Regions from separate parts of the Homo sapiens genome. Here all the other regions are linked to region 2. The links come from fine-mapping of genetic effects on gene expression. A gene starts in region 2. Each other region holds a variant in brackets. All regions are shown on one strand. Distances are from middle to middle. Region 1 holds the start of MIR6796 (microRNA 6796). Region 2 holds the start of SERTAD3 (SERTA domain containing 3). Region 3 overlaps SHKBP1 (SH3KBP1 binding protein 1).

Region 1 (9,989 bases), 76 kb after region 2:
ACACAACCACACCCGGCTAATTTTAATTAATATTATGTTTTTGTAGAAATGGTGTCTCCCTAGTTCTTGGGTATCCTATCTAGAACAATAAATAATAAGACCAAAAAAAAAAAAAAAATAGAAAGAAATGATGTCTCCCTATGTTGCCCAGGCTGGTCATGAACTCCTGGCCTCAAGTGATCCTCCCATCTTGGCCTTGGCCTCCCAAAGTGCTGGGATTACAGGGATGAGAAACCATGCCTGGCTTGAAACAATTTTTTTTTGAAACAGGCTGTCACCCAGGCTGGAGTACAGTGGTGTGATCATGGCTCACTGCAGCCTAGATTTCCTGGGCTCAAGTGATCCCCCTGCCTCAGCCTCCTGCGTAGCTGTGACTACATGCATGCACAACCCAACCCAGCTAGTTTTGTTTGTTTGTTTGTTTGTTTGTAAAGATGGAGTCTTGCTATGTTGTCCAGGCTGGTCTCAAACTCCTGGCCTCAAGTGATCCTGTCACCTCAACCTCCCAAAGTATTGGGATTACAGGCATAAGCCACCCCACTTGGCCTGAATTGTTAATTGCATTTAATTAACTTAAACTGAAAGAGCCACCTGTGGCTATACTGGATGATATAGAGCACCAAAGGTTTGGTGTGCATGAACCCAGGGTACCTCTCCCAGCAGCCCTAACAGGTTGGAAACAATACCCATTTTCTAACTGAAATAGAGGCCGAGGGATGTTGGGAACTACTCCAGGCCCCTGACCAAGCAGAATGAGCTGGGGTGAGAACTGATGGTCAGGATACGCCCTCCCTGTCATCACCAAACAGGGACAGATGGAGGCTGTGAGTGACGGCATGGGGCTGGGACATGACAGGCCCCACTTGCCCCAGACTCACCGCCAGGTAGGCCAGAGCAGGGGTTCCATTGAGGCAGATCTCCATTGGTGTCTCTTGGTTGTAGCGGGTGTCATAGAACCGGGGCCAAGTTGATGGGATGGAGCTGCCTGCCTGGCCCAGGAACCAGTAGGCCTCAAAGATCTTGGTCAGGTCTCGAGCCAGGCAGCTGCAGTTGTACATGACCACGCCCAGCTCCTTGACCTGTAGGAGGGCAGTGCTGAGCTCAGCGATAGCGGCCTAGTGCTCACAGATGACAGGGACACTCCCCAGTCTGGTCTCTGTCTTTCCCCCTGTCCCACAGTACCCCCTCCACCCCAGCTCCAATAGCTAAAGTCCTAGAATGATTATCAACTTAAGTTTTGATGAAAATCAGTTATTCCAAAGCTCCAGGTTTCCTGAACGTTTGCAATCTGCTGTTGCTTCTACCCTCCACTGAGCTAGCTTCTACTCATTCTTAGGTCTAGGCTGACATGTTGCCTCCTTCAGGAAGCCTCCCATGACTACCCAGCCTGCACCAGGCATTCCTCTGGGCTCTCACAGTCCCTTGGGATTCCCTCCTCATTCTTTCTGGTGACAAACTGGTCTTCCCATTGGGCTGGGAGGACAGGCACTAGGGATGTCTCAGTCACAGCTATATCTACAGCATCTCCCTGCATAATTGCTGAGATTAAAGGTTAGGGGAACTATCTGTTGAGGAAATGAATTCATGAGTTATTGTCCTGTCTTATCTTCACCTCATTGCCCAAGCTGTTTCCTGTTCCATCTTGCGCTAATTCCTCCCTATCCTTCAGGGATCAGATTAGTTATACCTCCTTTGGGAAACCCTCCAATGCCCCAGGTTGGGGTCTCTGAGCTTCCACAGCCCTCTGTTCCCTCCATCCTGGCCCTGACCCTCTGCCTGTGTCTCCCCAACCCCGGCCCTGACCCCTCTGGGCTGTCACTGTCAGGTGACAGGCCAGTCTGCATTGGGCTGGGAGTTCCATGAGGTCCATCTGTTACCACCATGTTCCCAACATTACCCAGGATAGGGCTGGACTTAGAGCAGGCACACAGAGATGTACAATGAAGATCAAATGGGTGCGCAGGTTCTTGAATGCCATGTAGAGGGGCTGGTAGCTGCAATTGGGGATCAGAGGGAGCCCCAGGCTTCCAGGAGCAGGGGGAGGGCAGTAGAGGGCTCCATTTAGGGATTCTTTGTTTTGTAACAGGGTCTCACTCTGTCACTCAGGCTGGAGTGCAGTGGCATGAATACAACCCACTGTAGCCTCAAACTCCTGGGCTCAAGTGATCCTCCCACCTCAGTCTCCCAAGGAGCTGGGACCAGAGGTGTGTGCCACCACACCGGGCTTATTTTTTTTTTTTTGGTAGAGATGGGGTCTCACTATGTTGCCCAGGCTGGTCTCCAACTCCTGGGCTCAAGCAATCCTCCCACCTTGGCCTCCCAAAGTGTTGAGATTATAGGTGTGAGCCACCGTGCATGGCTTGGATTAGGGAGGCCTGGTAGGAGGCAAGAAGGAAGCCATTACAGAGAATGGGTGGAGAGGACTCTGGATTGAGTGAGGGATGCAGTCGGAGGCTGGGTGCCCTGTGGGGCAGGGAGTGGCCTGGAAGGAAGGTAGACAGGGTGCAGACAGACCTGGGTCAGTGAACGCCAGTCCATGTTGGCACTGCCCAGGTAGAAGTGGGTCTGGTCCACCACCCAGAACTTGGTATGCAGGACGCCATGGGTCAGCTTCTGCATGTCCACCATGCGGACCTGGGCACCTGTGACCAGCAGGGGCAGAGATCAGGGGCCAGGCTGGGTACCCCCAGGCCCAGACCAGCCCCAGTTGGGCCCCAGCTCACCGCTCTGCAGCAGAGCCTGCAGGTCCGCCTGTGGCTGGGGCCCGCTGGGCTTGCTCACAGCGATGCGGACGTTCACGCCCTTTGGTGCCAGGGTCTGCAGCTGCCGGAGGACCTCCTCACCCTGCGGGGAGGGGAGAGCTTCTGAGGGGCTGGACCAGCCAGCTCTCCAACCCCACAAGGTAATGCCCGGTGGAGTTATTTTGAGACATGATTAGGAGTAAACAGACTTTACATTAGCCTGCATAGATTAAAGACTTTACAGATTAAAATATTAAAAGACTTCCTTATCTGTTTTAAACATCTTTATCTGCTTTAATAATTAGTTGCCCTGTGATCCCCCTCCAAGTCCTCCTGACCCCTCCTGCCCCTCCAGGGACTTTCTCAAAATTCAGCATCAAGGCAGGGCCTCCAGGCATCTCCCAGTATGGTGGGGGCGAGGCTCAGGCAGGGGGTCCTGGAAGGTATCGGGTGAGGCACGATGATGCCAACAACAGCAACAGTCAAGGATGCCCTGGAACCTACTGTGTGCCAGGCCCTGTTCTAGGCCTCTTCTCAGCGAACTCACTGAATTCTCACAACCCAGTGAGGCTGGTTTAATTATAATCCCCACAGAGAACTCAGTAGTGGAGTGGGATTTTGTTTTTGTTTTTTTGTTTGTTTGTTTGTTGAGACAGGGACTTGCTATGTTGCCCAGGCTGATCTTCAATCCCTGGGCTCAAGCATTCCGCCTGCCTCAGTCTCCCAAGTAGCTAGTACCTCAGGAGTGCACCACCACATCCAGCTATGGAGCAGGATTTGAACCCAGACCATCTGCCTCCTACATCTGTGTTTTAAACCACTTTAGAGGGAGCCAGCAGGGAGTGGGAGCTCATACGGTTTTTTAACATAAAAAAATTTTTTTTTAGAGACAGGGTTTCACTATGTTGCCCAGGCTAGAGTGCAGTGGCATGATCACAGCTCACTGCAGCCTCCAATTCCTAGGCTCAAGTCATTCTCCTGCTTCAGCCTCCCAAGTAGCTGGGACCACAGGTGTGTACCACTATGCCTGGCTTTGGTTTTTAACTTTTGTAATTATTATTATTACTTTTTCTTTTTCTTTTTTTTGAGACAGGGTCTTGCTATGTTGCCTGGGCTGGAGTGTAGTGGCATGATCACGGCTCGCTGCAGCCTCCAACTCCTGGGCTCAAGCCATCCTCCTCCTTCCATCTCCTGAGTATCTGAGACTGCAGGCATGCACCACAACACCCTCCTAATTTTTTTTTATTTTTAGTAGAGATGGTTGAGGGGAGGTGGGGGGCGGGTCTCACTATGTTGCTCAGGCTAGTCTCGAACTCTTGGGCTCCAGTGATCCTCCTGTCTAGGCCTCCCAAAGTGCTGGGATTACAGGTGTGAATCACCACACTTGGCCATAATTATTTTTTTCAGGCAGTTCTTAAGGAGCCTTGTAATTTTAGTTAAGTTTTAAGACAACTTCTCACAAAAAGAGCCAGTAGGGAGAAGAAAACAGAAGGAACAAATTCATGGTTTTTCAATGGAAGAGGTTATCCATGTAGGCTGTTCCTTTTCAAATTGTGAAGCTTTTATGTTCTTTAAGTTTGTCTGCAGACCATACCAGGATATATAGTAACAGCAGACTCACAAAGGCTGACTCTGTGCCAGGCACTGTGCTAAAATTTGCATGGATTAGTCCATTTCATCCTCACAAGAGCCCTAAGAAGCAGGTGCTATAAATTGGCCCCATTTTACAGATAAAGAAACTGAAGCTGGAGAGAAGAGGTGGCCTGCCTGGGGTCACACAGCTGGGAGGTGGCCCCTGTCTTGAGGCTGGGCTGTTAATTACTCCACTCTTCCCTTTCTTTGTGTGACTGGGTCAGGACAGCTTGTGGGTGAGTGACATCTGCCAGCCTAATAATCCCTTGTAACCAAACCCGCACCCTGACATTCAGAGGCCTACAGATGACCGTGACAAACGCCCCCAGTCCAGAGAGCCACGTGACGACAGCTGCTTGCAAACACCTGTGTCCAATCTGCTGTGTGAGACACACCCCTCTGTCTCCTGGGCTGCAGGAGAAACCCCTTCATTCCCCACAGCCCCCGCTGCCTCCCACCCCCTGCCCCTGCTGCCGGCCAGGGCCAAGGTTGCAGGTACCTGCTGGGCAGAGGGCTCCTGCGTGTGGGTGTCATTGTTGGTGAGGGTCCAGTAGAAGGAGGCGATGTCCAGGCTGCTGTGCGCACCGGCGAGCAGGCCCAGCCAGGCCTGGCTGGTGGAAGGGTTCCCCGTGGAGGCATTGGGGAAGTCCAGGCCCTCAGGAATGCTTTCCACCAGCACTGCTCTGGGGGGTGGGGGATGCTATCAGCCATACGGTGCCGGAGAGCAAGGGCTGGGAGGTGAGTGCTCAGCTGTCCGTCCATGGGTGTGTTGGATAGACTGTATTTTTTTTTTTTTAGAGACAGAGTCTTGCCCTGTCCCCCAGGCTGGAAGCGCAGTGGCGCCATCTCAGCTCACTGCAGCCTCGAACCCCTGGGCTCAAGCGATCCTCCCGCCTCAACCTCTTGAGTAGCTGGGACTACAGGTGTGCACCAGTATGCCTGGTTACTTTTTTTACTTTTAGTAGAGATGGAGCC[G/A]CACTACATTGCCCAGGCTGGTCTGGAACTCCTGGGCTCAAGCAATCCTCCCGCCTCAGCCCCGCAAAGTGTTGCAATTACAGGCGTGAGCCACCAAGCCCAGCTAAACTGTATTTGAGTTTTTCTTTTCTTTTAAAAAAAATTTTTTAAAACTGTGTGTATTTGAATGCGTGCCTGGACTCATGATCCTCTGCGTGTCTGTCTAGAGGTGTGGAAGGAAGGTCGTGTATTGAGATGTGTGTGTGGGTCCACAGATGTGGGTGGAAGATGCTGTGTCTGTTCACAGGCCTGACAGAAGATGACGCTGTGGCTGCCATAGAAACTATGTGTGTGGAGGAGGAGGGGGCGGGCGAGCACTTGGGAGCCTGCAACCTCCTCACTTGTCGCAAGCGCTGGGTAGGGCTGAGTGCAGGCCCTGTTTAGTGTGTGCTTAAGTGTACCTGGTCTGGCAGGCCCCTCCCCCACCAACTGCAGCACCCCCCACTTACTCGCAAGGGTCATAGCAGGGGGCTGGGCGCTGGTTGGGCCCAAAGAGATGCAAGTCGCCGTATTCCCATAGAAACAGCTGAGTCATCAGGGCTCCGAAGCCCACAACCGCCAGAATGAGGACCAGCAGGACCCAGCGGGCTTTCTGTGGGGAGGAGGAGGTGGTCAGCCAGCCCGAGGGGGGCAGCCCAGCCTGTCTCTGAGACAGAGCGAGGGTGGCGGAGGGCTCCTACCTTTTCCGCAGCCTTCCACGCCTCAATCTCATTCATGGGCAGCTCATTGGCGGGCTCCTCTGCAGGCACCTTCAGCTGGGGATGGGGACAACAACGGGGGTGACAGGTGGCTCTTGGGAACCCCCACCCCCACTGTACCCAGTTCCACCCTGCTGAGCCCCCCAATCCACCTACCTCCTGGTACATCAGTTTAGGCTTCATCTTCCCTCAAGGCTGGGGGATACGCAGAGCCCAGGTGAGAAGGTGGGTGTGTCAGGGTCTCCAAACTGGCAGAACAAAAGTGGGCACTGTGTGGGGTGTTCTACGCTTTCCAGGGACAGACATCACAGAAGAGTGATTAGTCTTGGGGCTATTCATAATCATGGGGGCCACTGGCACACTGCCCACCACCCCAAAAAGAGGAAGCTGGTCACTGGTCAGCAGGATTTCGAAATCCCTCAAAATCCAACGCTCTGCTGCCTGCTCTTCACTCTGCAGTGCCCACCCTGCCCCCATCAGCACCCACGCAGCTCCCCTCTAGCAGCCCCCTTCTCCCTCCTCCAACCTGTAGACACCCCAAGAAAGGCAGCGCTGGATGAGGTCAGCGGAGCCCCAGGTCTTTGTGCCTGGCTTTTCTCAGCCCTGGGACAGGGGGTATATTCTAGGTGGCTCCTCCGCCCTCAGGTGCCCCCACACCACACAGCTCAGCCAGGGATCATCGGGGCCTCCCTGCCACCCCGCTGCCCATCCCCCCAGCCAGCCTCCCCCCACCTACCCCTGAGGGGCCTCGGCCTCGCTCTCAGGCGTCTGCAGCTACCTCCGGTGGGCCCCAGCTTCTGTCTGGACAGGCTGAACGAGGGTGGGAGGAGGGGGCGGGGCCTGTGGGAGCTCCGCCCACTGCAGCGGGGAGTCTGCGCAGTGCGTGCCCCAGTCCGGGCTCACCGCAGCGAGAAGCGGGGCTCGGCTCCCCAGACACGGTCGCTCCAGCCTGGCCGGGTTGGGGGGTAGTACATGGCTGGTGGATGGGCTTTGCTACATTCCACCCTAGAGTCCCCGTGTAGGGCAGGGAGGCCACAGGTAAAGAACAAAAGGAACCTCACGTCTTTTCTCATTTACAAACCTTGTGAATTTGTGTACCATGGACATGCATTACCTAGTCAAAAATAAATACATAAATGAAATTAATAAAACGCTTATAAAATGAAACGGAGAGATCATGGTTGAATAACAGAATGAAGAAAGGTAGCGATAAAGTCAACAGAAGACAGTTCACAGCATGAGATGGGAAGAAAAGGTCAGAGGAGATGGTGAATTTTCTGTTGGAGTCTATTTAGATTTTGGTATTTGATTTTTTAAAAAAAGCCAGCTGATATTTTGGTAGGGATTTAAAAAAATTTATTTTCCGATCCACCCCATCCCATATCTCCCAAGAGGGATTTAAGGCCCCGGCTGGAGAAATACACTGGAGACCCCTTTCCTCTCTCATCCCTCCTCTCCTAATTGACAGAGGGTGGCACCTCTTTTCACGGCAGGGTGGCACCTCTCTCAATGAGACAGGGACACCCTCTTCCCTCAAGCTCCCCCAAACACACATGGCAGGAAGTCAAGAGATAACTGCAGAAAAGGAGTATTACTGAGAGAAGCAACAGGGCAGAAGTGGTTGTCTTCAAGGGAGTGGGATTTTGGGGTAGGTCAAGATTGCTTTTTATTGTAAGCCTATTTTCTTTTCTTTTCTTTTCTTTTTTTAGTGCCAGAGTTCTGTTCCCTAGGCTGGAGTGCAGCAGCATGATCATAGCTCACTGCGGCCTCAACTTCCCAGGCTCAAGCAATCCTCCTGCCTCAGCCTCCCAAGCAGCTGGGACTACAGGCACGTGCCACCATGCCCAGCTGCTTTTTTTTTTTTTTTTGGAGACGCAGTCTCGCTCTGTCTCTCCCACGCTGGAGTGCAGTGGCGCCATCTCGGCTCACTGCAACCTCCACCTCCCTGGTTCGAGCAATTCGCCCACCTCAGCTTCCCGAGTAGCTGGGACTACAGGCGCCCGCCACCATGCCCGGCTAATTTTTTTTTTGTATTTTTTAGTAGAGATGGGGTTTCACCATGTTAGCCAGGATGGTCTCGATCTCCTGACCTCGTGATCCGCCCGTCTAGGCCCCCAAAAGTGCTGGGATTACAGGCATGAGCCACCGCGCCCAGCCGCAGCTAATTTTTTTTTTTTTAATTTTGTATAGACGGGGTCTTGCTTATTGCCCAGGCTGAACTCCTGGACTCAAGTGATCCTCCTACCTTGGCCTCCCAAAGTTCTGAGATTACAGGCATGAGCCACCACATCTGGCCCCTATTTTCTTTTTTCTGAGACGGAGTTTCGCTCTTTTGCCCAGGCTGGAGTGCAGTGGCACAATCTTGGTTCACTGCAACCTCCGCCTTGTGGTTTCAAGCGATTCTCCTGCCTCAGCCTCCCGAGTAGCTGGGATTACAGGCGCCTGCCACCACGACCAGCTAATTTTTGTATTTTTAGTAGAGACAGGGTTTCACCAAGTTGGCCAGGCTGGTCTCGAACTCCTGACCTCGTGATCCGCCTGCCTTGGCCTCCCAAAGTGCTGGGATTACAGGCATGAGCCACTGTGCCCAGCCTATTTTCTTTTTTAAAATTGTGAAACATAAGCTATTTTCAGAGAAGTATAGAAAATATCTCGGTGTAGGTTGAGAAATAATTATAAAGCAAACACAGGCGTCACCAGTTTCATTACCTTTTAAAAAATCAGGGGCGCGCATTACTCTTTTTTGAAAAAGAAGAAAAAGAAAACTCTCAGAGCTAGGTGCTCCCCTTACTCCAAGATCCAACCTAGATTTGTAGGGATAACTTGCAAACTCCTCCCTACCAATGTCAGATCCCAGACTGGCGAGGGTAGAACATGCTAGATCCCCTCTTTTCATGGCAGGAAGACAAATGGGGATGCCTAAAAAGGATCTAGCAGGTCGGGTGTGGTGGCTCACGCCTGTAATCCCAGCACTTTGGGAGGCCGAGGTGGGTGGATCACCTGAGGTTAGGAGTTCAAGACCAGCCTGGCCAATGTGGTGAAACCCTCTCTCTACCAAAAATGTAAAAATTAGCTGGGCGTGGTGGCGGGCGCTTGTAATCCCAGCTACTCGGGAGACTGAGGCAGGAGAATTGCTTGAACCTGGGAGGCAGAGGTTGCAGTGAGCTGAGATTGCGCCACTGCACTCCAGCCTGGGTTAAAACAGAGCGAGACTCCGTCTCAAACAAACAAACAAACAAACAAACAAACAAATCTAGCAAGAAACAGCAACAGACTAAGGTTATTTGAAACTCCAGAGGTCACTAGGAGAAGCAGAAGATAACATCAGTCTTAGAGGCGGTTGACCACAACATTGTGGGTGGAGGAGGCAGGAGGGAGTGCAGGAAATGCTTGTCTTCAATTTTCTTTGAAGGCCTTGGTGAGACATATTTTTATTGAAGAATATGGAGTTGGAACAGCAGGCAATGTGAAATTAGGGAAGCCAAGATGAAGAAAAACAAAACCGAAGGCAAGGTGGGGCATGGAGATCTGAAGTAACAGGGCTGGCAGCGTCAGGGCTGGAGAACTGGGATGGTCACTAATAAACCAAAAATAAGGAGAAAGGCCTGGCACCGTGGCTCACACCTGTAATCTCAGCACTTTGGGAGGCTGAGGTGAGAGGACTGCTTGAGCCCAGGAGTTCCAGACTAGCCTTGGCAACATAGCAAGGCCCAGTCTCTACAAGAACATAAAAAATAAAAACAAAAACAAAATAAAAATAGGAAGAAAATAGATGGACTTCGTTCAAATTGTCAGTGATGTTTTGGCTTCCAAATTGTACAGTGATTACAGGTCTGTAATGATTAGTTTAATTTTAACTTTTGATGTTTTAATTGTATTATTTTTCTTATTGTGTTAACTTTTG
Region 2 (9,989 bases):
GCTCTGTCGTCCCGGCTGGAGTGCAGTGTCACGATCATGGCTCACTGTAGCTTCAACTTCCCTGGCTCAAGCAATTCTCCAGCCTCAGCCTCCTGAGTAGTTGGGACTACAGGGGCATGCCACTGCACCCGGCTGATTTTTGTATTTTTAGTGGACTCAGGGTCTCCCTGTGTTGCCCAGGATAGTTTCAAACTCCTGGGCTTGAGTGATACTCCTGTCTCAGCCTCCCAAAGTGCCAGGATTACAGGCATGAGCCACCGCCACTGGCCAGGGCAGGGGATTCCTGTCTGCTTTGTCCCTTGCTTGGGTGCCCAGCACCTGGCCACACAATAGGTAATCAATAAGGATTTATCGAATGAATGAAGCAAAGGATATAGATGAGCACCTGCATATGGAAAGTCCATTCTTGGCTGTGACACCACCCAGGCTGGACACACAGTAGGCACCCTGGGAAGGTCTTTCTGGGGGTCGAATTTTGGGGGAAGGGAAAGGTGTCTGCTTTATCCAGCCCCTCTTGTCTTTACTTCATAGGAGACCAGCCACTAACTGGGGCGTACACAGTGACCCTGGATGGACGAGGGCCCTCAAGGGTCATCTCCAAACATGACCTGGGCCATTTCATGCTGCGCTGCCTCACCACCGATGAGTACGACGGACACAGCACCTACCCCTCCCACCAGTACCAGTAGCACTCTGTCCCCATCTGGGAGGGTGGCATTCTGGGACATGAGGAGCAAAGGAAGGGGGCAATAAATGTTGAGCCAAGAGCTTCAAATTACTCTAGAGAAACCGACTGTGTGACTCTTCCTCTCTCTGCCTCTGTCTGAGTATTTTGGTGTGTCTGCCTGCCTCTGTGTAAGATTTGCTTGTTATGCATTCATTCATTTGTTCAGTAACAGTTTATTTTTATTTTTTTATTTTTTTGAGACCGAGTCTTGCTCTGTCGCCCAGGCTGGAGTGCAGTGGCGCAATCTGGCTCACTGCAAGCTCCACCTCCCAGGTTCACACCATTCTCCTGCCTCAGCCTCCCCAGTAGCTGGGACTACAGGCGCCCACTACCACACCCAGCTAATTTTTTTGTATTTTTAGTAGAGACAGGGTTTCACCGTGTTAGCCAGGATGGTCTTGATCTCCTGACCTCATGATCCGCCTGCCTCGCCTCCCAAAGTGCTGGGATTACAGGCGTGAGCCACTGCGCCCCGCCCAGTAACAGTTTATTGAGTCTGGCCAGGCATGGTGGCTCATGCTTGGAATCCCAGCACATTGGGAGGCCGAGGCGGGTAGATCACTTGAGGTCAGGAGTTCAAGACCAGCCTGGCGAACATGGTGAAACCCTGTCTCTACTAAAAATACAAAAATTACCCAGGCGTGGTGATGCACACTTGTAATCCCAGCTACTTAGGAGGCTGAGGCAGGAGAATCGCTTGAACCTGGGAGGTGGAGGTTGCAGTGATCCGAGATTGTGCCACTGCACTCCAGCCTGGGTGACAGAGCGAGACTCCATCTCAATAATAATAATAATAATAACTTAGCTGGGCATGGTGGTGTGCACCTATAGTCCCAGATACTCAGGAAGCTGAGGTGGGAGGATGGCTTGAAGCCAGGAGTCCAGGTTGGGCAACATAGTGAGACCCCATCTCTACAAAATAATTTTTAAAAACTTAGCTGGGCATGGTGGTGTGTACCTGTAGTCCCAGATACTCAGGAGGCTGAGGCGGGAGAATGGCTTGAGGCCAGGAGGTCAAGGCCTGGCCACTGCACTCCAGCCTGTAGGACAGATCCAGACCCTGTCTCTGAAAATAAAAAAAAGTTTGTGCTTTATTTTGAGGATTTATGCAAGGAGTGGAGCACCAGAGAAGTAAGGCAGGGGGGACAGTTGGGTGTTTTATGAAGCTTCCTTTGGCTACTCTGTGAAGGTGGAAAGGAAGGGTCCAGGAATGGAGGCTGATAGCCCAGAGGGAGTTGGAGGAGGAACTGTAAGGAGGGGAGGAGAGAGTGGGTGTGAGGAATGCCTGGGAGCCTGCGTGGACAGTTGGTGAGGGGTGGAGGGGAGGCATCAGAAAGAAGCATACGGCTGTAACCCGGGGACAGAGTTACACTAGTGCTTCAGGAGGGAGGCTGAGGCTGCAGTGAGCCAAGGTGCGCCACTGCACTCCAGCATCCACGACGGAGTGGGACCCCGTCTCAAAAACAAAAACCCAAATGCAGTAGGGCTTTCCTGAGTTGTGGACCCTATAGGAGGCGCAGGTTTTGGAGGAGGAAGGGGAAGAATTGCTCCTTCCTAATTATGTCCTTTTTTGGAACCTACTGTCCCTTTCTTTTTTTCCCAGGGACACCTTCCCTAGGCCTGGGTGAGCTAAGACACTTCTCTCTCCCTACCTCCAACCCACACCACCCACCTACCTATTCCCCTCCCATTTATCCTGCAAACATCAGGATGACTTGGTTGACAAACTCCAACCGGCAAGAACTGGTCTGAGGAGGCTTAAACCTCCCTTCCCAGAGGTGGCCTGGAGAAAACTGCCTCCTCCCCTTAGGGAAACTCGTTGTAGGGGCGGAGCATTACGGGTGTGGGCTTTCAGGACACTAGCAGTGTCTTCTTTCTGCCTTATTTTTCTGTCACATTCCTGAGCATTTAGCAAACTTTCACTGGGACCTGCTACGTGTCCAGCCCTGTGCTAGGTGATCCTGCAGACCAAGAGGTGGTTGACAGAGATATCCTTGGTACCTGCCCTCGGCGGGGCGTTCCTCAGTCCATATAGTAACTGACAGTCCAGGACTGGGATGGCGGCACAGGAGGCCATGGAATCCTAGAATGGATCCTAACCCAACCTGGACTGCCAGGGAGGGCTTCGGAGAGGAGGAAACCTTTGAAATGTGTTCTGAGAAGCAGCCTGGGAATTGAGGGTATATTTTGAGGATGAGGAAACAAGTTTAAATATCCAGAGGCGAGAAGATTGCTTGAGGCCAGGAGTTCAAAACCAACCTGGGCAACACAAGAAAACCCCCCTCCCCCCTCCCCCATCTCTCTGTCACCCAGGCTGGAGTGCAGTGGCACGATCTCGCCTTCACTGCAACCTCAACCTCCCAGGTTCAAGCGATTCTCCTGCCTCAGCCTCCCAAGTGGCTGAGATTACAAGCGTGCGCCACCACGCCCAGCTAATTTTTGTATTTTTAGTAGAGACGGGGTTTCACCATTGTTGGCCAGGCTGGTCTCAAACTCCTGACCTCAAGTGATCTGCCCGCCTCCGCCTCCCAAAGTGCTGGGATTACAGGCGTGCGCCACTGCGCCCGGCAAAAAATAATATTAATAATAAAGATCCAGAGGCCTTTTATTGTCATGTTTGCGAACTTATTATGTACCTGGCATTGTTGTAGACACTGGGGTAAAGCAGGGAAGAAAACAAACAGAGAAAATCCTTTCGTTTTCCTGATGGGGTGAATGGGAGCTTGAAGCCATTTTAGAAAAACTGGAAGTGACTCAATGGGGCAGGATCGGAGAGAACCAGGAGAACGCATCAAGCAAGGTCGTGAGGGGCTTTGTGGCAAAAGGAAGGAGTTTGAAGTTTGTATTCGGGGTGGGTAGGAAGCCATGAACAGTAGCAGAGGAGTCATCTTGATGGAGCGGGGAAGGAAAGAGGGTGTCAGAAGACCCAGGTGGGACCACCAGAGGACGTGCTGAGAAAACCTGAGGATTAAGAAGGGGCCGCGCGGTAACGTATAGGGGGCGGGAGGGGCAGCAAGGGGGCGAGGCTACGATCGCCTAGGCAACGCGGGCCGCGCCACTCTATTGGCTGGTCTTCCGCTACGTCATCCCCCGCGCCCCAGCGTCCTCCCTCGGAACCCCGGGGGCGCGGCCTCCTCCGGTTGCTCGGCCCCGCCCGCCTGCACAGCGACTTGGGGAGGGGCATGCCAGCCCCTCTGGCTCCACGGTGGAGTCCAGGCCTACCATAAAGGAACCGCAGGGAGCAATGGTGACGATCTTGGAGCGAGGACTGTAGCTGAGTGGAAGGAAGCGGTTCTGTTGGACCGGCCGCCCTCCACCCCGGAGTCGCTGCCCCGCCCCCTGCCAGTTGCACTTCTTTAAATGGCCCGGGGCGCTAGGGAGGGGTGGGCGGATCCGGCGTCTCGGGGCACGGGCGGATGGCTCCGCCCAGCCAATCGACGCCCCGCGGCGGGCGGGACTCCAGCCAATCGCGGCTCGCGGCTCGGCTCCGGGGCGGGGCTGGTGGGCCAGAGGCCAGACGGAGAGGCCCCGCCGAGGTGAGCGAGGCTCCAACCGGTCACTGGTGGGTCCTGGCACTGGCGGGTCGCAACGCTGTGGGCGTTCCAGGAGGTGGTCGTGGCGAACCTGGCAGCTGCGGTGAGGAGTGGTCGCCTGGCTTGGGAATTTACCTTAGGCTGGGGGAGAGAGAAGCGCGCCCCGGGGACTTGCGGAGGCGGGGTCTGGGTGGGACCGGGGGAGGGGGCCTCAGATTCAGGGTGATGATAGGGAGGGTCTGGGGACCTGAGACTGAGTTCAAGACCCAGGAGGGGAGGCGAGGTTGTTGGGGCAGTATTTTCAAGTGGAGGGAGTTTGAAGCTGGGACGTTGGGCTTTTGGAGAAGCGAGAGAACAGAGGGGAGGAACTTTTGAGACAGGGAACCTGGAGATTCGATTCCACTTGGGTCTTCCGGACGGGTTGAATTCGGGGCTTTATCGTGTTCTGGAAAAGGTGTGAGAGGTACGGAGCTGAGATTCTGAGTATTTGGAGAAGCGAGAGAACTAGGGTCAAGGATTCTTGGGACTCCAAGACGCACTGGCGGGGGAAGGAGGTTGCCGGGAAGAGTTCAATGTTCGGGTCTTGGAGCCGGACAGCGAGTTTGGAGGTGAAGTCCAGGGGCGTTTGAAAGTCAGGAGACTAGGAGAAGTGGGAGGAAGTATCAGAATTAGGATACGTAGTCTCCCGAACTAGATCGGAGCATTGTCGTCTTTGAGCGATGTGTTCGGATCTGGGTCTCTGGATCCAAGGGCAGTTTGGAAGGAGAATCGCGGACTTTCAAGGAACAGAGGGACCGGGAGAAAGCAAATTTAGAGCCGGAGTCTGGGGTGGGGGAGGGGTGTTCCGGGCCTGGAGCTCAGACTCGCGGCCCCGGAGGCAATGGAGGGCGGGGCTCGGCAGGCGCCGGCAGCTGGACGTCCAGGTTCCCTTCCCCCACCCGCCTGTGCCCCTGTGCGCATGCCCTGAGGGAGAGCGGGGTGAGGGGGGTGGCTCGTCCCCTGGACGGGCGGAGCCCTCTGGGGATTGTAGTGCGTGCTCGACGTCAATTCGTGTACCTGGCGGCTGTTGGCCCCCGTTTCCCAGAAGCCCCTGGGCCAAATTGGGGCGTTCCTGGATGCTCTGTAAGGACCCATGGGGGGGCGGGGCCTTACAGTGTCGCGGTCTGATTGAGTGGGACCTCCGAGGGGGCGGGGCTTGGTCTGAGCTGAGTTCTAGCAAGTTTTCCTATGGGGCGCGCTTTGGGGGAATCTGAAAGCGTGGGCAGAGGGAATGAGACAGGCCCCTTTCCTACTCTTGGGAGCGCTCCCAGTCGGTTAAGGAAGAGGACATAGAAATATCCCGACTGTTGAAGAAGAATCTCAACATAGGTTCCCCAACAGGGCTCCAGGAGATTTCGAATATAGTAGGCACTCAGTAAATCTGTTGAGCGAATAACTGGCAATTAACTCTTGATCGAGGCCGGGTGTGGTGGTAATCCCAGCTACTCAGGAAGCTGAGGCGGGAGGATCGCTTGAGCCCAGGACTTCGAGACTGCAGTGAGCTGTGATAGCGCTGCTGCACTCAGCCCTGGGCGACAGAGCGAGACCCTGTCTCTAACAAAAAACAAACACAACTCTTGTTCATTAAGCACTTCCGGTGTGGTGGGCCCTATAGATACGTGGCATCTCCTTGACAGAGGTGGTGAGAAGTATTTTTTTACAGTCCCTATTTTACAGATGAGGAAACTGAGGCCCTGAGAATTGACTCATTCAGATCACTTCCCATGATCACGCAGCTGAGCAGTTTCCAATACAGAATTCAGATTTGGGGTTCCCTACTTCCAATCCAGGTCTCTGTGCTCCACACTTGTCTTTCGTGCTCCATGTTTGAAGAAATTAATATTGTGGAAGAACAGTTTTAAGGCTTAGAGGAACTTGAGTTAGGATCCGTACTTGGCAGATGAGGAAATTGATTCTCATGGATGTAAATTCACTGTTTGAGGCCACAACAGGCAAGTAAGTGAGATTTAAATCTAGCTGTACGTAACGCCAGATCTTATTTTCTTAATCGTATATGTACTCACCTTCTTAAACTTGTAGGATTCAGACAGCCTTCATTTTATACATCAGTAAACTGAGATTCCGATGATTAAAAATCACTAACAACTCAATAGGCCTGAGAAAGTGGGATATGAGCCAGCACTACGGTGTCTGGTGTCTGACCTTCCCCTATGCGCCTCTTCTCTCTACAGGGCATCATGGTGGGAGGCTTGAAGAGGAAACACTCTGATTTGGAAGAGGAGGAGGAGAGGTGGGAGTGGAGTCCAGCAGGCCTTCAGAGCTACCAGCAAGCCCTGCTCCGCATCTCCCTAGACAAAGTCCAGCGCAGCCTGGGCCCCCGAGCACCCAGCCTCCGCAGGCATGTCCTCATCCATAACACCCTCCAACAGCTGCAGGCTGCACTTCGCCTGGCTCCCGCCCCTGCCCTGCCCCCCGAGCCCCTCTTCCTGGGCGAGGAGGATTTCTCCCTGTCAGCCACCATTGGCTCTATCCTCAGGGAGCTGGACACCTCCATGGATGGGACTGAGCCCCCTCAGAATCCAGTGACTCCCCTTGGCCTCCAGAATGAAGTGCCACCCCAGCCTGATCCAGTCTTCTTAGAAGCTCTGAGCTCCCGGTACTTGGGGGACTCTGGCCTGGATGACTTCTTTCTGGACATTGACACATCTGCGGTAGAAAAGGAGCCTGCACGGGCCCCACCAGAGCCTCCTCACAACCTCTTCTGTGCCCCAGGTTCTTGGGAGTGGAATGAACTGGATCACATCATGGAAATCATTCTGGGGTCCTAAAACTGTGATAGAGGGGATCGATCCTTCCTCATGTCATCTTCGGTGGCCTGGATCCCTGAATGCAACTCTGGGTGTGTGTTTTTGTGGGGGCTCGAAGCAGTGACTATGGCCTCCTTTGTTCCCATTTCAGGGTTCCACAAACTGTCTTGCATGTGTGTGTGTGTCTGGTTACCCCGACCTTCTGTGAAGGTGGGTCTTCCTGAATTAATTTATCTATTCCAAATGCCTTAACGAGACTCTGTTTCTGGGAGTCTGATTTTCCACTTACACATTTCTTCCACCTTTCCTGCTAGTTCCCACTCCCCTGTGACCACTGGGGCCTCAGGGAAGATAAAGAAAGCTGGGCCTGTCGAAGGATGACAGGGATGTGCTGCCAGGTTGCTATAGAAACCCAGGCTCTGCCTCTTGCACCTTGAGGGGGTGGGAGGGGCTGGTGTCCTCCCTCCAGGCTGAACCCCACTTCCTCGGCAGGACCCCAGTCTCAGCAGCCTCCTGATTTCATAACCAGGCCGGACCACGTGCAATAGGGTGGAAACCAAACTGCTCCATGCCGGGTTATTTAAAAGAAAGGCAGAGTTTGTGGTGGCTTTTTTTTTTTTTTTTGGATTGTTTGTAATTTTTTTAAATAAAAGTATTTTGGAAGGAGGGATGTTGTCTAATGTTTCTAAACTTCACTGGGTCAGTGGGAGGGACCTGGTAAGTTCCTAAACATCAGCACCACTTCCGTGCCATAGCTGGGGTAGGTGTATCATTGTACATGACATTTATTGAGTGCTTGTTGGCTGAGTGCTCTAGCTCCCACTTGGAATCCTAGCACTTTGGGAGGATCTGCTTGAGGCCAGCCTGGGAAATGTGGCGAAACACTGCCTCTACAAAAAATACAAAAAGGAGCTAGGCATGGCGGCCTGTAGTCCCAGTTACTGGGGAGGCTGAGTTGGGAGGATCACCTGAGCCTGGGAGGTTGAGGCTGCAGTAAGCCATGGTCACACCACTGCACTCCAGCCTCAGAAAAAAATTAGTGCTTGTTAAGAGCACTGTTCTAGCCACTTTATTTGAATTAAGTCTGTTAATCCTCATATAGAAGTAAGTACTGTTACCACTTTTTATACAGGAGGAACCAGAAGTTTAGAGAGGACAAGTCACTTAATTCAGAGCCACACAGCTAGGAAGAACAAGGACCAGGGAGCTAGGCTGAAATGGCCTCCAGAGCCTTGTCCTTCACTATTATAAATGTTGCTTCTTAGACTAACCAGCCACGTGGGTGGGCACAGGAGGGAGAAACTGAGTCACACGGAGTATGTGTCACTGAATGTGCTGCTGAGCCCAGAGGGGCAAGAAAATGCCCAAAGACCCCCAGTACTAAAAGACCTCTTTAGGAGAGTTGGCTAGGAAGCAGAGCCCAGATTAGATTTATAGTGCTAATGCTTTTTTTTTTTTTTTTTTTTTGAGACGGAGTCTCACTCTGTCACCCAGGCTGGAGTGCAATGACAGGATTTTGGCTCACTGCAACCTCCACTCCCGGGTTCAGGCAATTCTCCTGCCTCAGCCTCCCGAATAGCAGTGACTACAGGTGCTTGCCACCACGCCCAGCTAATTTTTGTATTTTTTTTAAAATAGAGACAGTTTCACCATGTTGGCCAGGCTTGTCTCCAACTCCTAACCTCAAGTGACCCGCCTGCCTCAGCCTCCCAAAGTGCTGGGATTACAGGCATGAGCCACTGTGCCTGACCTGTGCTGATGCTTTATTTCGGAGGTACGAGCCCAGGCTGCTGAGATACAGGAGAGGAGAAGGAGGTGAAGGAAGTGAAGGAAGAGGTAATGTGATACCTGTACAGGCTATGCCTTTACAATGGTCTTTGAAGAGATGAAGCAAGTGAGCTACACAGCATTAGGGACTTTTCTGGAAGGGCTGCGAGGAGGAACAACACCTGAGTATAGTCCATGGGTGGAGAAAGGATGGGGATTTTGCTTGTGGTTTCTGGGTCAAAGCCAGATTTCTCAACCTGAAGGGGTCATTGTCAGAAAGTGGAGGGATAACCTGAAGAGGTGGGTGCCAATCCAGAGAGAGGAATGAGGTGGCCCAGAGGATCTAAAGAAAGCAACCAGGTACAGGCCAGGCGCGGTGGCTCAGGCCTGTAATTCCAGTACTTAGGGAGGCCAAGGCGGGAGGATTGCCTGAAGTGAGGAGTTTGAGACCAGCCTGGCCAACATGGCGAAGCCCTGTCTCTACTAAAAATACAAAAAATTAGCTGGGCATGGTGGCAAACACCTGTGGTCCCAGCTACTCAGGAGGCTGAGGCAGGAGAATCACTTGAATCCAGGAGGCACAGGTTGCAGTGAGCTGAGATCATACCACTGCACTCCAGCCTGAGTGACAGAGCGAGATTCCATCTCAAAAAAAAAAAAAAAAAAGCAACCAGGTGTGATACTTGCTGTGGAATTGTAAAAAATAAAAATAAAAGGTAAGCAACCAGGTCTGCATCCCAATATGATGGCAATTGAATCATGTCTTCCTCCTTGAAACCTTCAGTGCCTTTTTTTTTTTTTTTTTCTTTTGAGACAGGGTCTCTGGCTCTGTCGCCCAGGCTGGAGTGCAGTGGTACAATCACAGCTTACTGCAACCTCCACCTCATGGACTCAAGCAATTCTCCCACCTCAGCCTCAGCCTCCCAAGTAGCTGGGACTACAGGCACGTGGACCACACCTGACTAATTTTTGTATTTTTTGTAGAGATGGGGTTGTGCCATGTAGCCCAGGCTGGTCTTGAACTCCTGGAATCAAGCGATCCTCACATCTCAGCCTCCCAAAGTGCTGGGATTACAGGCATGAGCCACCACGCCCAGCCTCCAGTGACTTCTTGACACACTCAATAAAGCGCCAGCTCCACCAAGACCTGCAAGG
Region 3 (9,989 bases), 140 kb before region 2:
ACCTTTTTTGTTTTGTTTTGTTTTTGAGACAGGATCTCACTCTGTCACTCAGGCTGGAGTGCAGTGGTGTGATCATGGCTCACTGTAGCCTTGGCCTCCTAGGCTCAAGCGATCCTCCCACCTCAGCCTCCCAAGAAGCTGGGACCACAGGCATGCACCACCATGCCTGCTTAATTTTTGTATTTTTTTGTAGAGATGGGGTTTTGTTATGTTGCCCAGGCTAGTCTGAAACTTCTGAGCACAAGCAAACTGGCCTCCCAAAGTGCCAGGATTATAGATGTGAGCCACCATGCCTGGCCTCCCTTTGCTTAAACAAGAGAGGTAGATGTTCCTGATTTTGCATATATCGGGTTGGGTCCCACATCTTCCCCACCCCTTTCCTGGGGAGTCCCAAACCTGCTAAGAATAAGCAAGATGTTGGCAGTGAGGACTTTATTGGGGAGGGTGACTTTGGCTTCCAGAAAAGAGGGAAGGTGGGGACCTAGTAACAATAACCATTTATTCCAAGGAGGCCCTGGCCCTGAACCCGGGGTTCCCACAGGAATCAGGGAGGCACCTGAGTCCCCCAGGACCAGGGCATCCCAAGGCATCATGGCAGCTGCGTTGTTCAAAAGGAAGTTTCATTGAGCTTCATCTTGGGAGGTGTGAGGGGAGTGCCGAGACCGCTGGAGGGCCACGGGGCTGGTGTGGGTGGCCGTCGGAGGTCTGGCCCACTCCGCACCAGTTCCTGGCAGCGTTCCACAAAGCTGCCCCCACCACGGCGCCGGGCCTCAGCCTGCGGGGGGCTTGGGCTCCCACGGTGGCCAGACAAGGAGGTGTTGCTGGAGGCTGAGTGGAGGCTGAGGAAGTAAGGACAGTAAGTGCACGTCATCACGGGGCAGCTGGGCCACTCTGTCCCCGGGAACACCATGCTGTCCCCTCTCCCCTCATTGCACAGAAGGGGCAGTGGAGTTGTGGCTACCTGGTGAGGGAGATGCGGGGTGAGGGGCTGGGGAGACAGCCCCATGAGGGAGCTGAAGGAGCCGGCGGGGCCAGCTCACAGTGTTCCAGCTGTTCCATCAGCTCTTGCTCCGTCAGGCCACCTGCTGGGGGGCACGGAAGCAGGGTCAGGGGGCAAGACAGGGGTCATAGGGCAAGGGCCTGGGTTGCATTGCAGTGCAAGCACCGAGGGTCAGGACAGGAGAGAGGAAGCAGAGATCAATGCATGGGGGCCAGAGGCTGAGACAGGGGTTGAAAAACAAGGGCAGGAAGGGATGGGGAGCAGAGAGGGGGTCAAAGGAAAAGGGGTCAGAGGGCAAGGGCCTGGGAGAGAGATCAAGCAGTTGGCAGTGGAGAGTGGTTCTGGGTGAGGCTGTGGGGCTTGGGACGGGATTGGGGTGGGGCAGGGAGTACCAGGGGCCTGGCCGAGGCCGTCCATGGCGGTGGTTAGGTCCCACATGGCCAAGCTGCCGTTGGCCTGGCCAGTGAGCAGGTAGCGCCGGGGCCGAGAGCCGAGCCGCCGGGAGCCCTCGCACTCCAGCACTGTGAAGGCTGTCGTGGGTGAGCCGTCCACGGAGCGCACGGAGCACACCCTGGGGGGTGCAGTGGGGGAGGTGGTCACCCTCGCTTTCTCACCCTTCCTCGTCCCAGTCCCCACCACTGTGGCTGCAGTTCCTGCCTCTCCAGGGGCCATCCCAATCTTTATCCATCCCTAGCCTGCTTTTGAGTTCCAGTCCCAAGGGTCCAGCAGCTCTTGGACACCGCAGCCCCAAACACCCAGGGAGTCTCCCAGAGCTTCTGCTCTTCCCTGCTCCCACTGCAGGGAAGACCTGAGGCCCGTCCCAGCTGCTCCCCCACCTCCTATCAGCCTCCTGGCCTCCTCCCTGGGCTCCTGGCCTCCCATCAAGCCTCCTTTCATCCCCCATGCAGTGGCCACGGCTCCCCGCACAGGACAAAGCCTCAGCCCTTCCACAGCCTGACAAGGCCCGCCCGCATCTGCACCCCATCCTCACCTCCTGTTCTGTGCTCCAGCCCAGGAGCCCACGTGTCCTTCCCATGTGACCCTATTTGGCCCTTCTCAGCCTCTGCACATACAGTTCCCTCAGGCTGGGGCCCCCTTCCCCTGCCTTCTTTCTTCTGCTCCTTCCTACTTGTCCTCTAGGTCTCTGCTCAGAGTCCCTTCATCCAGAACATCCTCCGAGGCCCCTTTCCCAGCTGAAGCAAGGCTCCTACAGCTCCCTGGGTCTCCTCCATCCCATCCCGACCCCTGCCCCTGGTCCCCCTATCCCACCCCAACCCCTCCCCCTGGTCCCCCCATCCCACCCCGACCTCTCCCCCTGGGCCCCCATCCCACCCCTCCCCCTCCGCCTGGGCCCCCCATCCCACCCTGACCCCACCCCCTGTGCCTTCAACCTGGCCCTGCCTGCACTGGGCTGGCACTGCGCCAGGTCAGTCCCACCAACACCTGTCACACCTTTGATACCAGAAGACAAACCTACCAGGCCTGTCCTCCCTCCCAGCCTTTGCTCCTTCAATGCTCCTTGGCTGGGACCCCTTTCTGGCCTCAGTGATCTGGCTAGCATCTTGCCTTCTCCCCTGACCTCCCTCCCTGTTGGACAGGACTGTCCTCCCTCCCTGTTGGACAGGACTGTCCTCACCGCTGCCCAGTAGATGAGAGACGCACGAAGAGCTGGCTGGCACTGGGCACCACCTTCTGGATGAACACTTGCTGGTCGTCCCGCTCACCGTAGGGGCCTGGGCCAGGCAGGGGCAGGGGTCAGGGCCAGCTGGGATTCCCTCAGCCTCAGACTTCCTTCCCCACTGATGAAACCCACCACCCCAAGACCCCAGTCCCATCCCCAGGTTGTTAGAGTTGGGCAGGGCCAGAGAGGGCTGGGGGGTTGTGGCAGTCAGTGGAGCTCAGGTGCCTCAAGGATCAGGACACCCCAATCGTTGCAGGCTCCTGGGTCAGGTGGCCGCAAGTGGGAATCAGCGGAGGTCAACAGGGGTCAGGTAAGGGGGTCAGTGGGGTGGGAAGGCCAGGAGCCAGTAGGCACCAATGTCATTGCCAGCACTGCAGCCGCCATGCCCATCTGCCGACTCCAGAGCCAGGATCTTAAAGGAAGCGAGTGGGGTGGAGCCGGGCTGGGTGGAAATCATGCCGCGGAAGCGAGTCACAGACCATGTCCGCACGTGGTTGTTGTCGGCACAGACTGAGGGGCACAAGGAGAGCAGGAAGTCAGGCCTGGTGCAGGCATCAATGCTGCCTGCCCGTCCAGAGCCTCAGGACAGCCCCGTTTCAGGAGGGTCAGCCCTTGCTGAGTTCTTCCCTTTCAGAGAATCCTTTCCTCCCCAGAATTCCAAATGTTAAAAACCCTGTTGCCTCTGCCTCCAAAACTGTTCCAGAGCCTGATCTCACCTTGCCCTATCCTCTGCCCCACACCGGTCCTGGTCCATTTCGTCACCTGCCTGGACCGTATCAGCACGCCCCTCCCAGAGGTCCCTGCTCCTGTCCTATCCCAGTAGTGTGCTCCCACGGGCAGCCAGGTGGAGCCTGTGAACACCTGAAGCTAGTCATGTCCCTCCCCTGCTCGGAGCCCTCTGTGGCTCCTGCCCTTGTCACCTCCATACCCTCATCTCCTCCCATTCTCCCCCTCATTTACTCTGTTCCAGGCACAAGTGGCTCCCTGCACTTCCTCAGGCATCCTCTCACCTCAGAGCCTTTGCAATGCCTGTTCCCTCGGCCTGAATGCTTGTCCCTACCAATCTGCACTGCTCATTCTGTTATTTCTGCTCAAAGGTCCTTCCTCAGGCCTTCCCTGAATGACCCCTCTCCAGCGACTTGACACTCTCTAGCCACACACAGCTTCATGTTTATTCATAGCCCTTATCATTGCCTGGTGTTGATTTAGATTATTTTATTAATATTTTATGAGATAGAGTCTTGCTTTGTTGCCTGGGCTGGAGTGCAGGGGTGCAATCATAGCTGATTGCAGCCCCTGACTCTTGGGCTCAAGTGATCCCTCCACCTCAGCCTCCCAAGAAGCTGGGACCCCAGGTGCATGCCACCATACTTGGCTAATTTTTTAAAAATTTTTTGTAGAAACAATGTCTCACTTTGTTGTCCAGGTTGGTCTCACACTCCTAGCCTCAAGCAATCCTCCCACCTTGGCCTCCCAAAGTGCTGGGATTATAGGCATGAGCCACAGTGCCCAGCCTGATTTGCATTTTTATCTATTTATTTTTGAGATGGAGTCTCGCTCTGTTGCCTAGGCTGGAGTGCAGTAGCATGATCTGGGCTCTCTGCAATCTCCGCCTCCCAGGTTCAAGCAATTCTCCTCCCTCGGCCTCCCGAGTAGCGGGGATTACAGGCACGTGCCACCACACCTGGCTAATTTTTTATATTTTTGGTAGAGGTGGGGTTTCACCATGTTGGCCAGGCTGGTCTCGAACTCCTGACCTCAAGTAATCTACCCGCCTTGGCCTCCCAAAGTTCTGGGATTATAGGTGTGAGCCACCGCAGCTGGCCATTGATGTCCATTTTTATAGATTTATTGTCTGCCATCGCTGCTAGAATGTCAGCTCCACGAGGGCAGGGACTTGGCCTGTCTTGTTCATCACTGTATCCCCTATGCCTGGCACATGGTGGGTGCCCCGTAAATCGTTGCTGAATTGATGGATTCCCAAACACACACAGATTCACTCTTCCCCAGACTGATCCCCTATGGTATTCTCTCACTTCTGCAATTACAGTCCCATCCCAGGTCAATCCTCTCCGCCAGAGCTCTCTTCCTACACAATGTCCCTCCCCAGTGGAAATTCTCATCCTCCTGTCTCCACACTCCCATCTGAGCTGTCTCTCCCAGCACTGGAGCACCCCACAGAGGCTCACCTGAGATGAGGTGCTTCTCCGACAGCATGATCTTGGTGACAGGGCTGCGGTGCACAGTGAAGGTCTGGAAGAGCTGAGGCCCCGAGCCCACAGTCTCCGGGTGCTGCACGATGACCCGCACGCCCCCTGAGCTGGTGCCATAGGCGATCTCGATCCAGTTCCCACTGTCACCTGGTGAGGGGCCAAGGATGAGGAGAGGGCCTGGGCCACAGAGACAGAAACCAGGGCAGGGAGAAAGAAACAGGCACAGAACAGAGACACAGTCAGAAAGCAAGGAGAGGCCGGGCACGGTGGCTCACGCCGTAATCCCATCACTTTGGGAAGCTGAGGCGGGTGGATCGCTTGAGGTCAGGCGTTCAAGACCAGCCTGGCCAACGTGCTGAAACCCTGTCTCTAGTAAAAATACAAAAATTAGCTGGTGGTGGTAGTACGCACCTGTAATCCCAGCTACTCAGAAGGCTGAGGCATGAGAATTGCTTGAACCCAGGAGGCAGAGGTTGCAATGAGCCAAGACCACGCCACTGCACTCCAGCCTGCATGACAGAATGTGACTCTGTCTCAAAAAAAAAAAAAGAAAGAAAGAAAGAAAGAGACACAGAACAGAGACACAGTCAGAAAGCAAGGAGAGAGGGAAGGACACAAAAAGATGGTGATGAGATGTGGGAAATGGAGGAACAGGGAGACAAAGGCACAGGTCAAAGGAGGAGAGGCCCAGAGACAGAAATTGTAACAGTGAAACAGCAAATAAGAGAGGAAAGAGAAAGTAAAACAGAGAACAGAGGCCGAGGCAGGAAGATTGCTTGAGGCCAGGCGTTTGAGGCCAGCCTGGGCAACATAGTGAGACCCTCATCTCTACAAAAGATTTTTAAAAAACTAGTTGGGTGTGATGGCATTCACCTATGATCCCAGCTACTCAAGAGGCTGAAGTAGGAGGATCACTTGAGCCCAGGGGGTGAGGCTGCAGTGAGCTATGATTGCGCCACTGCACTCCAGCCTAGGTGACGAAGCGAGACTGTCTCAAAAAACAAA[G/C]AAAAATGACATAATAGTGGCATGTGGCGGGAAGGGAGATGAGGAGGAAATGAGTAAGTAAGTGAAATAAGAAAGAGGCCGGGTGCAGCAGCCCATGCCTGTAATTCCAGCACTTTGGGAGACGACGAGAGGAGAATCCCAGGAGTTCAAAACTTGCTTAGCCAACGTGGCAAAACCCTGCCTCTACTAAAAACACAAAAATTAGCTGGGCATGGTGGCAGGCACCCGTAATCCCAGCTACTTGGGAGGCTGAGTCTGGAGAATTGCTTGAACCCAGGAGGCAGAGGTTGTAGTGAGCTGAGATTGCGCCATTGCACTCCAGCCTGGGTTGAATGACAGAGCGATACTCTGTCTCAGGAAAAGACAAAAAAAAAAAAAAAGAAAGAAAGAAAAAAAAGAAATAAGAAAAGGGCCTTACAAAGAAGAAAGGTGATAATGTGTCATGAAGTTAGGTGTATTATTAACTTATTTCTGCTTTAAAAAAAAAAGAAAAGCAGCAGCAGCAGCTATGGCCAAGCACAGTGACTCAAGTCTGTATTTCCAGCACTTTGGAGGCCAAAGTGTGAGGATCACTTGAGCCCAGGAGTTCAAGAGTAGCCTGGGCAACATGGCAAAACCCTGTCTCTACAAAAAAATACAAAAATTAGACAGGTGTGGTGATGCATGCCTGTGGTTCTGCTGTTCAGGAGGTTGAGGTAGAAGAATCGCTTGAGCCCGAGTGGCGGAGGTGGCAGAGAACTCACATCATGCCACTGCACTCTAGCCTGGGCAACAGAGCAAGACCCTGTCTCTATTTTTTTTTAAAAAAGAATAATCCCTGCTTCACACCATACATAAAATTTAATTTCTGATAGAACAGACTTCCATGTAAAAACTAAACTGTAAATCTTCTAGAAGAAATTCAGGAGAAGATCTTTGTAACCTAGAATAGGTAAGGATATCTTAAGACCCAGAAAACACTAACCATTTAAAAAAATATGCTAAGTGAAAAATGCAGACACAAAAGACCATATAATGTATGATCCCATTTACAGGAATTGTCCAGAACAGGCAAATCCATAGGTATAGGAAGCATATTGAGCCTGGCCAACGTGGCGTAACCCAGTCTCTACTTAAAGTAGAAAAATTAGCCAGGCATGGTGATGCACACCTGTAATCCTCCCCTACTCAGGAAGCTGAGGCATGAGAATCGCTTGAACCCAAGAGGCAGAGATTGCAGTGAGCTGAGATCATGCCACTGCACTCCAGCCTGGGCAGCAGAGCGAGACCTTGTCTCAAACAAAAAGAGAAAGCATATTAGTGATTTCTAGAGGGTATCAGAAGTGAGAAATGTGGAGTTACTGCTAAAGATCAGGGGGTTTCTTACGGGGGTGATGAACATACTCTGGAATTTGTTCATGGTGATAGTTGTACAACCTTGTGAATATACTAAAATCCGCTGAATTGTGCACGTTCAAATGGGAAATTTTATGGTATGAGAATTACGTCTCAAAAATTAACCCATTCTGCATTTGATGTCAAGAAAACAAAACAAAAAACTGTCTCAAGTAAGAGAACTCAGGTTCATCTGCTGTAAAACCTGCATCTGTGTTGTTTTATGAACATGTGAACATCATGCCTTAATCACAAAGGTGGGAAAGAAACACAAAGATTAACTCCTAATGGTCCATTCTGCCCCTAGTGGAGAGGGTGGCCACCATCTAGCACCTAGAACGTGCTTATATACAGGGATACTCAGTAAATATTTGTTGAATGACTGGATGAGAGTTGAATCTGGCTGGGCGCGGTGGCTCACGTCTGTAATCCCAGTACTTTGGGGGGCTGAGGCGGGAGGATCATCTGAGGTCAGGAGTTCAAGACCAGCCTGGCCAACATGGTGAAACCCCATCTCTACTAAAACTACAAAAATTAGCCAGGCGTGGCAGTGGGCGCCTGTAATCCTAGCTACTTGGGAGGCTGAGGCAGGAGAATCGCTTGAACTCAGGAGGTGGAGGTTGCAGTGAGCCAAGATTGCACCACTGCACTCCAGCCTGGGCAACAGAATGAGAGTCTGTCTCAGAAAAAAAAATGAGAGAGAGTTGAATCTGCCGCCCCTCGATAAACCCCTCTGGGTCATGCTACACAAGTTGGGGGACAGCTGCAGGCTGGGGCTGGGGCTGGCAGGTGACAGCAGCAGGGGAAGCCGGGTCATAGCTTACTGGTCTTGGGGGTGAGGTAGACACTGAGGGCGGTGACCCCATCCTCCGCTGGGTCCCGATAGAGCTCGCTGACAAGGAGGTCGTTGTCTTTCATGCGCAAGGGGAACTTCTGCACATCTGGGGTGGGCAGGGAGGGTGGAGCGGGTTTGTTCCAAGTGCCCCAGCCTCTCTCCCTCCCTTCCCCTCTCCCAGGGGAGGGTCTCGGGCACCCGGGACACAGGCTGCTGCTCACCCACGTAGTAAATGGAGCCGTTGTTGCAGCCCAGGAGGAGGAAGGAGCCTGCCGCGTCATAACTGGTGATGGGCTGCACCTCCTGGACCTGGGGGTGGGGCAGGACAGGCTGCAGCCGGGAGCCCTTCCATTCCTTTCCTTCCGTGGTGACCCCTCACAGAGGATGGGCCCTCTCCTCCACCTCCAGAACCCACCCACTGCTCCCCAGCCCCGTCCACCCCAGGCCTGCCTTTGTCCCTGTCTTGTTCCCTCCCTTCCTCCCTTTGATGCATCTGTCTGTCTGACTCTTGGCCTCTCCTGGACTCTGTACTTTTTAAAGTTTTAATTTTTTAAATTTTTTGTAGAGACAGAGTCTTATTATGTTTCCCAGGCTGGCGTCAAACTCCTGGGCTCAAGCCATCCTCTTGCCTCGGCCTCCCAAAGTGCTGGGATTACGGGCGGGAGTCACTGCACCCGGCCTCCACTATGTACTTCTGACATGACTCTAATTCATCTCCATTTATCTCTCTGAGTTCCCCCATCTGCCACAGTGGTTCAGTCTGGTTTGACTCTGTCTACCCTTCTCTGTCACCTCTTTCTGATTTTCTATTTCTATTTGCCTGGTTTTCTGCCTCTCTGTCTCTTTCTCTGCCTCTGTCTGTCTTTCTCCCAAAGCCATCCTCCCACCTCAGCCTCCCAAAGTGCTGGGATTACAAGTGTGAGCCACCGAGCCAAGCCAGTTCTTGTCTTCTACAGCATCCCCCCTAACCTGCTCTCTCACCCAGTCCCAAGACAATCCTCCCTACTCCTTTTCAAACCCATTCATGCTTCATGTGGGCTCTGCAGCACCTCCTCCAGGAAGGCTTCCCTGGTGCTCCTTAGGCCTTTATCACAGACATCCCCAGGCTCTGGCCAGCTGCTGGTTCTCTGGCTTCCTCCAGGCTTAGGGGGTGGGGGTGGGGGCAGACGTGAACCCCTTCCTGGGTCTGTACAGTCTGGAAAACTGGGAAGGGGGCAGCCAGGCTGGCCAGAACTCTGACCTGCCAGTGCTTGGTGACGGCATTCCACACCCCGATGCGCCCTGTGTGGCTTGTAGCAATGAGCTGGTTCCCGACGAAGAACAAGGCCTCCACAGGCACCCCCAGATGAAAGACCCCTGCAGTGGGCAAAAAGGGCTCAGCTGGAACCCTGCCTCATGGAGGAGGAGAGGTGGGAGGAAGAACTCCAAGGACCAGAGGGTTCAGTGGGACCACAGAATCCTTGAAGGATAGAAGATTCCATCAGGGGCTGGGCACAGTGGCTCACACCTGTAATCCCAACACTTTGAGAGGCTCAGGTGGGCGGATCATTTGAGGCCAGGAGTTTGAGACCAGCCTGGCCAACATGATGAAACTCCATCTCTACTAAAAAATATAAAAATTAGCTGAGTGTGGTAGCACACAACTGTAGCCCCAGCTACTTGGGAGGTTGAGGAAGGAGAATTGCGTGACCCCAGGAGGCAGAGGTTGCAGTGAGCCGAGATCATACCACTGTACTCCAATCTGGGCAACAGAGAATGACTCCATTTCAAAAAAAAAAAAAGTGAAGATTCCAGCAGGAATTAGAGAAGATAAAATGGGCCAGAAGATTTCTGATGGGGTATGGGATTCTAAAACGGTCTGGAATTCTAACAGCACTGAGA

What was found.
Region 1: its variant is fine-mapped to the expression of SERTAD3 in whole blood (TOPMed, PIP 0.97).
Region 3: its variant is fine-mapped to the expression of SERTAD3 in whole blood (TOPMed, PIP 0.95).

Annotation. Positions count from the first base shown.
Region 1 is chr19:40,362,763-40,372,751 of GRCh38, reverse strand. PLD3 (phospholipase D family member 3) reads right to left here. Exons shown (of 13, transcript NM_012268.4): 2 at 6,822-7,034; 3 at 6,242-6,333; 4 at 6,068-6,142; 5 at 5,837-5,979; 6 at 4,873-5,056; 7 at 2,724-2,844; 8 at 2,515-2,642; 9 at 879-1,079. The coding sequence starts at 6,268. It overlaps MIR6796 (microRNA 6796), which reads right to left and starts at 2,906; the gene lies at 2,845-2,906. RefSeq lists an enhancer at 676-970 and a silencer at 4,641-4,806. The variant G/A (reference allele first, on the strand shown) is at 5,349.
Region 2 is chr19:40,438,589-40,448,577 of GRCh38, reverse strand. SERTAD3 (SERTA domain containing 3) reads left to right here and starts at 4,243. Exons shown (of 2, transcript NM_203344.3): 1 at 4,243-4,363; 2 at 6,492-7,734. The coding sequence starts at 6,498. The coding sequence ends at 7,088. SERTAD3-AS1 (SERTAD3 antisense RNA 1) reads right to left here and starts at 4,061. Exons shown (of 2, transcript NR_187496.1): 1 at 3,950-4,061; 2 at 3,315-3,688. BLVRB (biliverdin reductase B) reads left to right here. Exons shown (of 5, transcript NM_000713.3): 5 at 532-810. The coding sequence ends at 689. RefSeq lists silencers at 3,712-3,931, 3,992-4,311, 4,492-4,551, 5,017-5,396.
Region 3 is chr19:40,581,826-40,591,814 of GRCh38, reverse strand. It overlaps SHKBP1 (SH3KBP1 binding protein 1), which reads right to left. Exons shown (of 18, transcript NM_138392.4): 10 at 9,349-9,464; 11 at 8,330-8,417; 12 at 8,098-8,214; 13 at 4,871-5,041; 14 at 3,036-3,191; 15 at 2,637-2,733; 16 at 1,393-1,571; 17 at 962-1,085; 18 at 418-839. The coding sequence ends at 608. Among named protein-coding and RNA genes, the nearest start is that of SHKBP1, 9.9 kb to the right of the region's middle. The variant G/C (reference allele first, on the strand shown) is at 5,900.